Linked DNA regions of Homo sapiens: region 1 is linked to region 2. Evidence: fine-mapped expression QTL. A gene starts in region 2. The other region holds a variant in brackets. All regions are shown on one strand. Distances are from middle to middle. Region 1 overlaps EEFSEC (eukaryotic elongation factor, selenocysteine-tRNA specific). Region 2 holds the start of EEFSEC (eukaryotic elongation factor, selenocysteine-tRNA specific).

Region 1 (4,396 bases), 190 kb before region 2:
TTTTATGTTTGGTATGTACAAGTTTATAACCGAGCCTTTTATCGTTACATGATGTCCTTCTTTACCTTTGTCAGTATTTAACCCAATCTCTCAGCGTTAGCATTTAAATAGAATTTGGCCATTCACATTTAGTGTAATGACTGATACTTAATGTTGTTCCTTCTGTTATTATTATTATTTATTAACATTGTTCTTTTTTCCTTATTTTTGTTGGTTTAATCAAATTCATTCCAGTTTCTCCTCTGAGAATGTGAAAGTGCTATTACATTTTCACTGCATTCATATAGTTTCTTTCCCTTTCTCTGTACTCAAAATCTTGCACATATTTCTATATTTTTACTTTGAAACAGGATACCAACTATTTCCCTTATCACCATATGCTCTAGTAGTCTTTCCTAAACCCTCTCCCCAGAAAGATTAGCCATTTAGAACACTTTCACTTCTTTTCTTCTCCCACTCAGGTGAGACCTCTGGATGTCTCTACCAATCCAAGCTCCCTCTTCTTCTTTTTTTTTTTTCTTCATTAACCCTTTATTACAAGTCACACTCTTATAGAAGTACACGTGGACTTATGTGAAAAAATCAAATGTATCCAAGAATAAAAAACACAGCACATAAAGTAGTATATGCATCCCAGTGTTAGCACAGAGACAGTGGGCACCCAAGAAAAAGCCCAATTCCTAAGGACTGCTGAGAGGGTTTAATGCTTTCAGCTGCAGATAATTATTAGCATTTTCCTCGCAGGGTGCTCATTCTATTTCAAGAGCCCTATTAACCATTTATATTAGGGGTTGGAAAACTATAGCCAAAGGGTCAAATTCTTCCTGATACGTTTCTGTATGGCCTGTGACCTAAGAAGGGTTTTTATATTTTCTAATGAGTTGGAGAATATCAAAAGAATATTATTTTGTTACATGTGAAAACTATATAAAATTTAAATTTCAATGTTCACAACAAAAGGTTTTATGGGAACACAGTCATGCCCATTTGTTTACATATTGTCTATGGCTGCCTTTGTGTCACAGTGGCAGAGTTGAGTAGCTGAGTCTGAGACCTGATGAGGTGCTCAGTAAACTACAGATGGTGGTAACATAGTTACAACTTGCAGTACCTCACCCAGTGACACATTTTATTTATTTATTTATTTTATTACTGGTGCATACCCATCACATGAAAACAAGAAAAGTGGACTTCAAATGTCACACTTTTAAGGCGCAGTGGGTATGGATTATTATTTTATCACATTACATGGCAAAGTACTGTGTTTGTTATTAGTTGTGTTAACAGAATATGAGATACACTGACATCACGATATTCCCATCTCACAGAAAAACAATGTCAAAAAAGAGAAAACTTAAAACAGTATATTTCATCATAGCAGACACGCAAAACAATAAAAAATAAGAATAAGGCTGCAACCAAAGTAGGTTTCCGGGTGGCTCATTTGTTAGCCAAGCAAGGAAAGCCATTTACCAATGGTAAGTTAATTAAATTGTGTTTGATCGAAGCAGCTGAAAGAAGAATCCAGAGAAAATAAGCTTGTTTAAGATTATTAGATTTGGAGCAAGAGCAGTTGTTTAGGTTTGGCCCATGGGCCATAGTTTGCTCTATGTAATACTAATGAGTTAAGCCACAACTGGTAGGGTACCTGACCAGCTTCCAGTGTGAGCCAGTGATGCAGACGCACAGGAAATAAAAACACAGTCTGCAGAGGCTTGGAAATTAGCATCTTCTGTGTTTCAATAACTGTCCTCAGCATCACATATTTACATCACGCTGTTATTTTCTTTCTAGACCTTATTATAACCTGAAAATGTCTAATTTACTGTTCACTACTAGCCTCCCCTAGGAAGACAAGAACTTTGTCTATCTTGTTGTATGCACAGTGCCTGGCACAAACGTAGGAGCACAGTAAACATCCGAATATATGAATGAAGGATGCCTTTATAGGAAATGGGATCAGAAGGCCTATATGCCTTAAGCCCCCCTGGCGGAAAGTGCTCACTTAACACATAGGTATAGTGCCAGGGTCTCCCTTTGTGATGAACTGAGATAGCTCAGAGACCCAAGCCCAGGTTCTCAGAAGGCTAACTGTGCTTGCAAAGTAGATGTGCTGGCCTTGCCCCGAATCACAGAGCAAAGGCTGGGTGCTGGCTCACCAAGGTGGTGGAGATTCTGCCCAAGAGACTGGATTTCACCTTTTCAAGATTCTCTGATCTTCCAGAAACTTCTTTGAATAGACATGTCCAGAAAGCTGACTAGTAACTGTGATGTGCCCAGGAATTTTTAGAGTCAGCCAAGCACGGTGGGGAAAGAAGAGCATAGGGCACTTCTCTGGCCCCTGCGCTGGATAACCACACCCATGAGCCTACCAGACTCTCAGCCCCTCCCTCTTCAACCAAAACTGTGTGGCTCCTGATAGGGACCAGGGGGATTGGCTCCTGTGCTTCAAAGA[G/T]AAATAATGGAGTCCCAGGGAAAAGAGTGGACCCACGCTCCAGGCATTATTATTTTGACTCTAAGAGCTTAAACATTAATAATGATAAAACAATAACGATGCAGTAGGAGACAAGCACTGATCTCAGAACCTTATGTGCAATCCCCCATCTCACCTTCATCTAACCCTGGTGCAGCACTGTGAAAATTCCCACTTAACATGGAAGTCTCATGGTCTGCTCAACTTTTCACACTAGCAGGTGGTAAGGCTGGGAGTAAATAAAGCCCAGGCTTGCACATTGGACCAGTCTGTCGGATGGCTGAGCCCCTGGTCAAGCAAGATGACCTGAAAATCTCTGGGTGATCTGGGGCCTACTCAAAGCAAACAGGGCTGCCCCTTTGGAACAAACTCAGCCAATCACTCAGGAGCTGCAACAGGAACACTACCTTCTTGCTTCACCTGATGAGAGTCGGCTCTTACATATGAAGCCACAAGCTATGGTGGCTCTTTCAAAACAACCTGATGAGGTCAAGACCATCCTTCGAAGGAATGAACAATTGAGATTAAATGGCTGCCCAAGGCGTACAGCTGTTTTGGGTACAGCAAGGGCTTGAGCCTACTCTGTATGATCTCCAAGTTCCACCTTACCAGGAAGGAAAGTCTCCCACCAAGGAGATTCGAGCTTTTCAAGAGAACGCAGACTCTTTTGACACACTGGGCAAGAATCTGTCTGACAAAGTGGAAATTTCATGACTCAAAAGAGACCAGCTAGTCCTGAGTTCAAACTCCAGCTTTACTACCCTGTGACCTTGGGCAGGTCACTTCACATTTCTTGGGCTGGTTTCCAGTCTGGCTGCCTTTGGGGAGGGGACCTGGGTTCGTAGGAAGAAAACTTCCTTACACTGAATAATTATTGTCTTGTTTGAAATTTTTTACCATGTGCATATATTACTTTTCCTAAATATTTGCACATAATTTGATTGATTTAATTGGGGAAAAATGTACATAGGAAAAATAATGACCTCTTCCTCAGGGTTATTAAACGGTTTCAAAATAAAGTATGTAGCTAGTAAAGGCGCATAGTATATGCTTAATCAGTAGAGTGGTGACAGAGTGGAGGGAGGCAGGAGGCAGGCTCATTCCTGCCCTGGGGCCCAGAGGAGAGCATGTGGCACAGAAGCCCCAGCCTACAGCCAGCCCCTAGCATTAAGGCAGGTGCCCATTCAGCTAGAGCCTCAGGGGGTTGCGAGTTGGGGGAGCTGCTCCTAGCCTGGGCACCCATGCCCTTTCCTCCCTTGTGGAGCCTCAGGAAGGCCTTCTTCCTCGACCAAAGCCCTGGGCTCATAGGATCTCACCTCTGCACACATCCACAGTCACCCTGTGAGGCTGTCCCTGGTTGGAGGAAGCCTGTCTCTGCTCAGGGTTGTCTATATGGGATTTGGACTCAGCTTCTGTGGACTGCCTACAGTTCTTGTGCTTCCACTTCCAGCCTCCCTGGACTGAGCAGGAAAATGCTGGTGGCCCCAGGTTGGTGGAAGGACATAGGCCAGGCATGTCTCCTGGCCCCTCCCTCAGCCCTTCGGAGGCATGAGTCATTGAGGCCATATGTTTACTTGCTCCTCACAGACCCTCCCTCCCAGTTCTCAAAGGAAGTGACTGCTGCACCGCTGTTGACAGGCCTGAGTGGGAGCAATTAGACCCAGGAGCCACACCAATTGGGATATTACTCTCTCATAGATATTTTACTATAGAATAATTATACTCCAAACACTGCTAATAAATCAGGCTAGACAAACGAGTGACACACACTTTATCACCTTCATCTTCAATCAGCATCTTGGGGCTGGCCTAAGGCTGATGGAGCCCTGAGCAGGCCCCAGCGGCCCCCCCGGAGCTAAGGGTCCAAGCTCTGGGTCTGAGGAAGGGAGAGGAAGGGGTTGCTCCTCAGTCCCCCACTTGAGG
Region 2 (4,396 bases):
GAAAGAGGTTGCAGTGAGCCAAGATTGCACCACTGCACTCCAGCCTGGTAACAGAGCGAGACTCCATCTCAGAAAAAAACAAAAAAACAAAAAAACAAAAAACGGGTCTTTTCATTTGCAGAGATAGGAGGGGTACAGAATTTAGGACAGAGGAGTGGGTAAGGGAATGTTTGTCTTATTTGTGATGTTCTATTTCTTCACAAGTAGCATGTATTCATGTATTACATGTATAATTAAAAATTAATGGTACCTCTTTGTGGGGCATTTTGGCAGTACCCACCACGACCGAAAACACACATGCCCCTTGCCCCAGCCAGTTATTATCTATTATCCTACATATATGCGAACATACCAAAGAGTTCTGTTCTAGAATATTCACTGCAAAATGGTTTGTAAATACTGGAAACAGCATAAACGTCCATCATTAAAAGATTTGTTCAGAAAATGTTGGTACAGGCCGGACGTGGTGGCTCACGCCTGTAATCCCAGGACTTTGGGAGGCCAGGGCGGGCGGGTCATGAAGTCAGGAGTTTGAGACCAGCCTGACCAACATGGTGAAACCCGTCTCTACTGAAAATACAAAAAAATTAGCCGGGCGTGGTGGCGCGCGCCTGTAATCCCAGCTACTCAGGAGACTGAGGCAGGACAATCGCTTGAACCCAGGAGGCGGAAGTTGCAGTGAGCCGAGATCGTGCCACTGCACTCCAGGCTGGGCGACAGAACAAGACTCTGTCTCAAAAAGAAAAAAAAAAAAAGAAAAAGAAAATGTTGGTACAAGGGTGCAGTTGAATTCTATGTGAGCTTTAAAAAGAATGATGTAGCTTTGTGTACAGATATGGGGCACTCTCCAGACACAATGTTGAGTGAAATCGTGTCTAAAAGGATGAGGGAAAGAGGGATTTATACATACACACAGATATGCTTGTATTGACGTGGAGCCTTTCTGAAATGATATACAAAAACTGGTAGCAGCGGTTGGCTCTAGGAACGGGAATCAGACCAAATGACAGGTGAATGAAGACAGCCTTTGTATGTATACCCTTTTTGTAGCTTGTGAGTTTTCTTATTTTGAGTTTTCTTTACTTGACCATGTATTATAAACACATTTGGTAGGGATTTTTTGATTTTTTTTTTTTTTTTTTTTTAAGGAAGGCGCCTTGCAGCTCGGTTCTGCTGGATGGGAAAAGCTGAATCTCAAAGCCTCCGCTCACTTGCTGCGGAGCCCTAGGCAAGTCACGTCCGCCTCTTGGGGCGTCAGGAGCCCCACCAATGAGGTGGGGCGATTTCCCGTCCCGGCAAAGGCTCGAGCGAATTCGGACACGGGGCCCGGTCGCTCCGCCCGCGTCCCTGAGCCCGGCTCCCGCCCCGGCCCGCGCTCACCGCCGATGATGGTCCGGATGAGGGAGGCGTGCCCGGGGCAGTCGACCAGCGTGACCTGAAGCAGTGGCTCGCCGGGCTCGGGCTCGGCCTCGGGCGCTGCCTGGAACTCGGGCAAAGACGACCGCAGGCGCGCGGGCAGCGGCACCGAGAAGCACGAGAAGCCCAGATCGAGCGTGATGCCGCGCTCGCGGCTCTGCGGCTGCTTGTCAAAGGCGGCGGTGGAGGCTGTGGTGCTTAGCGCCCGCGCCAGCGCCGTCTTGCCGCTGTCGATGTGGCCCAGCACGCCCACGTTCACGTTCACCCGCCGCCCTGCCATGCCGCCGCCGCCGCCTCGGACACCCGCCCGGCCCGCCCCTCACCTCCCTCGGTAGTCGCCGCGGTCCGGCCCGTTAAGTTGCCCCCCCGTAACCGGCGCGCTGTGCACACCCGTTCCGGCCCGGAAGCTTCCGCCCTCCTGAGGCTCACGGGCACAGCCGAGCGCCGTGCTCCGAGTGGGTGGTCTAGGAACTGGAGGTCACCGTAGGCAGGGTTTCTCTCTCACGTGGCTCCTCCTGCCTGAAGCCTCTAGGAGCCCGAGATGGAGGGATCCTTCTGAGAAGTGAAGCCATTTGGACTTTCTGGGTGAGTGGAGACTTGGAGAACTTTTCTATAGCTATCAAGAGGATTGTAAAATGCACCAATCAGCGCTCTGTAAAACGCACCAATCAGTGCTCTGTAACATGCACCAATCAGCAGGATCCTAAAAGAAGCCAATCACAGGGAGGATTGAAAAAAGGGCGCTCTGATAGGACAAAAACGGAACATGGGGGGGCGAAGGGGGGCGGGGGGGGCGGGGTGGGCGGGGGGAAGACGGGGGCGGGGGGGGCGGGAAGACGGGGGCGGGGGGGAGGGCGGGGGGACGGCGGGGGGCGGGGGAGGGCGGGGGGACGTGGGGGAGGGGGCAAATAAGGGAATAAAAGCTGGCCACCCCCGCCAGCAGCAGCAACCCTCTCAGGTGCCCTTTCGCATTGCAGAAGCTTTTTGCTCTTCACAATAAATCTTGCTGCTGCTCACTCTTTGGGACTGTGCCATCTTTAAGAGCTTTAACACTCACTGCGAAGGTCCGCGGCTCCATTCTTGAAGTCAGCGAGACTAGGAACCCACTGGAAGAAACCAACTCCGGACACACTTCCAATCATTCATACATTTCAGCAAGATCTTACCAAGTGCCTGGTGGGTTCCGCTGGGCTACAGTGCCCGCTAATATTACATTCAGGGGGTGAGGGCTAAGTCAAACAATACAGCCTGAACCAGACCATTTCAGAGAGCGAGAAGTCTCCTAGGGAAAATAAAAGCTGAGATAAAAAGGAGCAGGAGAGGGAGGATGGACAGCTACCTAACTGTGGGTCAGGGAAGACATCTAGGAGTTGCTGTTTGAGTTGAAACTCCAGTGTTGAGAAGGAGCCAACCATGGGAAAAGATGGTTTGAAGATGGAAGAGGACAACATTATCTCTGACTCAGAAATTCTCACCCTGAGAGTCTGTAGCCTGGGCTTAGGAGAGGCCACAAACCTCTAAATTGAACGCACAATGTGTTGTGATGTGCTCTTGCTAGACAGAGGGTCGACAACTCTCACTAGATTCTGAAGTGTCTAGAACCACAAAAAAGGTTGTCAGCCATAGTCACCAACCAGAGGTAACAAACCTAAGTGTCTGCTCTGGCCAGGTGGTGGGTAAATCAAAGAAGAGAAGTTAAAAGAGTCTAAGATGACAGGGAGTGGTGGGGACCTGGGAGACCTGGAGAGCCCTTTTCCTGTGCAAAGAGGGAAGCCACTGCTCAGTCTCAGCCAGTGATACCAGGCAGGAATGCTAGCCCAACATTGCCTCCTCCTTCCATTTTTCTGGAGAAGAGAGTGTTTTTGTAACACTGTGGCGGTGGAGCACAAAGTTCACAGGATCTTACCTTTGCCCTCTGTGATGAGCCAGACCATGTGCGGATGTATTCATGCTTGCAGTAACTGCCTCCTTCGTTCCACCACTCTCCACTAGGAACAGAGTCCATGTCATAGACTGAATTGTGTCCCTCTCAAATTCATATGTGGACACCCTGACCCCCAGTGTGATAGTATTTGGAGATGGGACGTTTGGGAGGTTAGATGAGATCATGAGAGCGGGCCCTTGTGATGGGATTAGGGTCCTTACAAGAAGAGAACAGAATCTTTGTTTCCGTTTTCCCACCTTGCAAATAGGAAACTGTAAAAATACGCCTCCCATTAAAAAAAATCTAGTAGTAAAAGCAGTAAACGTATTTAAAAGGGAGGGTTAGTAAATAGGTAATAAGAGCTTTAGAGGCTTTATGTACCTCTGAGAAATATTTCAACTAACAAAGACTTTGTACAGGGCCTGGCTTCAAATAAACCTCATTTCTTACCTCTGTTTTAAACAGAATCCTGAAATGGTAATGAAAAGAAAAAAGGTTTGGCTGGGCACGGTGGTTCATGCCTGTAATCCCAGCACTTTGGGAGGCTGAGGCAGGCAGATCACTTGATATAGTTTATATATCTATATATAGAATATATATAGATTTTATATATAGATATATAGAGTATATATATATAGAATATATACAGTGTATATATAGAATATATAGAGTATATATAGAATGTATATAGAGTATATATAGAATATATATAGAATATATAGAATATATATAGAATATATATAGAATATATACAGAATATATATAGAATATATAGATATATAGAGAATATATAGAGAACATATAATATATATAGAATATATAGAATATAGAATATATATTATATATATAATATATAATATAATATATATAATATATATAGAATATATAATATATAATATATAGAATATATAATATATATAATATATAGAATATATTATATATATAATATAGAATATTATATTATATATATAGAATATATATATAGAATATATATATATAATATATAATATATAGAATATATATAGAATATATAATATATAGAATATATAATATATA

Evidence for each region. PIP is the estimated chance that this variant, and not a neighbour inherited with it, causes the effect.
Region 1: its variant is the best candidate, but not a certain one, in a credible set for the expression of EEFSEC in whole blood (TOPMed, PIP 0.84).

Annotation. Positions count from the first base shown.
Region 1 is chr3:128,343,385-128,347,780 of GRCh38, reverse strand. The region is part of intron 5 of EEFSEC (eukaryotic elongation factor, selenocysteine-tRNA specific); the gene reads right to left. Among named protein-coding and RNA genes, the nearest start is that of DNAJB8-AS1, 120 kb to the left of the region's middle. RefSeq lists a silencer at 3,940-4,353. The variant G/T (reference allele first, on the strand shown) is at 2,456.
Region 2 is chr3:128,150,808-128,155,203 of GRCh38, reverse strand. EEFSEC (eukaryotic elongation factor, selenocysteine-tRNA specific) reads right to left here and starts at 1,723. Exons shown (of 7, transcript NM_021937.5): 1 at 1,381-1,723. The coding sequence starts at 1,696. It also overlaps a transcript of RUVBL1 not described here. RefSeq lists a silencer at 1,213-1,732 and an enhancer at 1,863-2,092.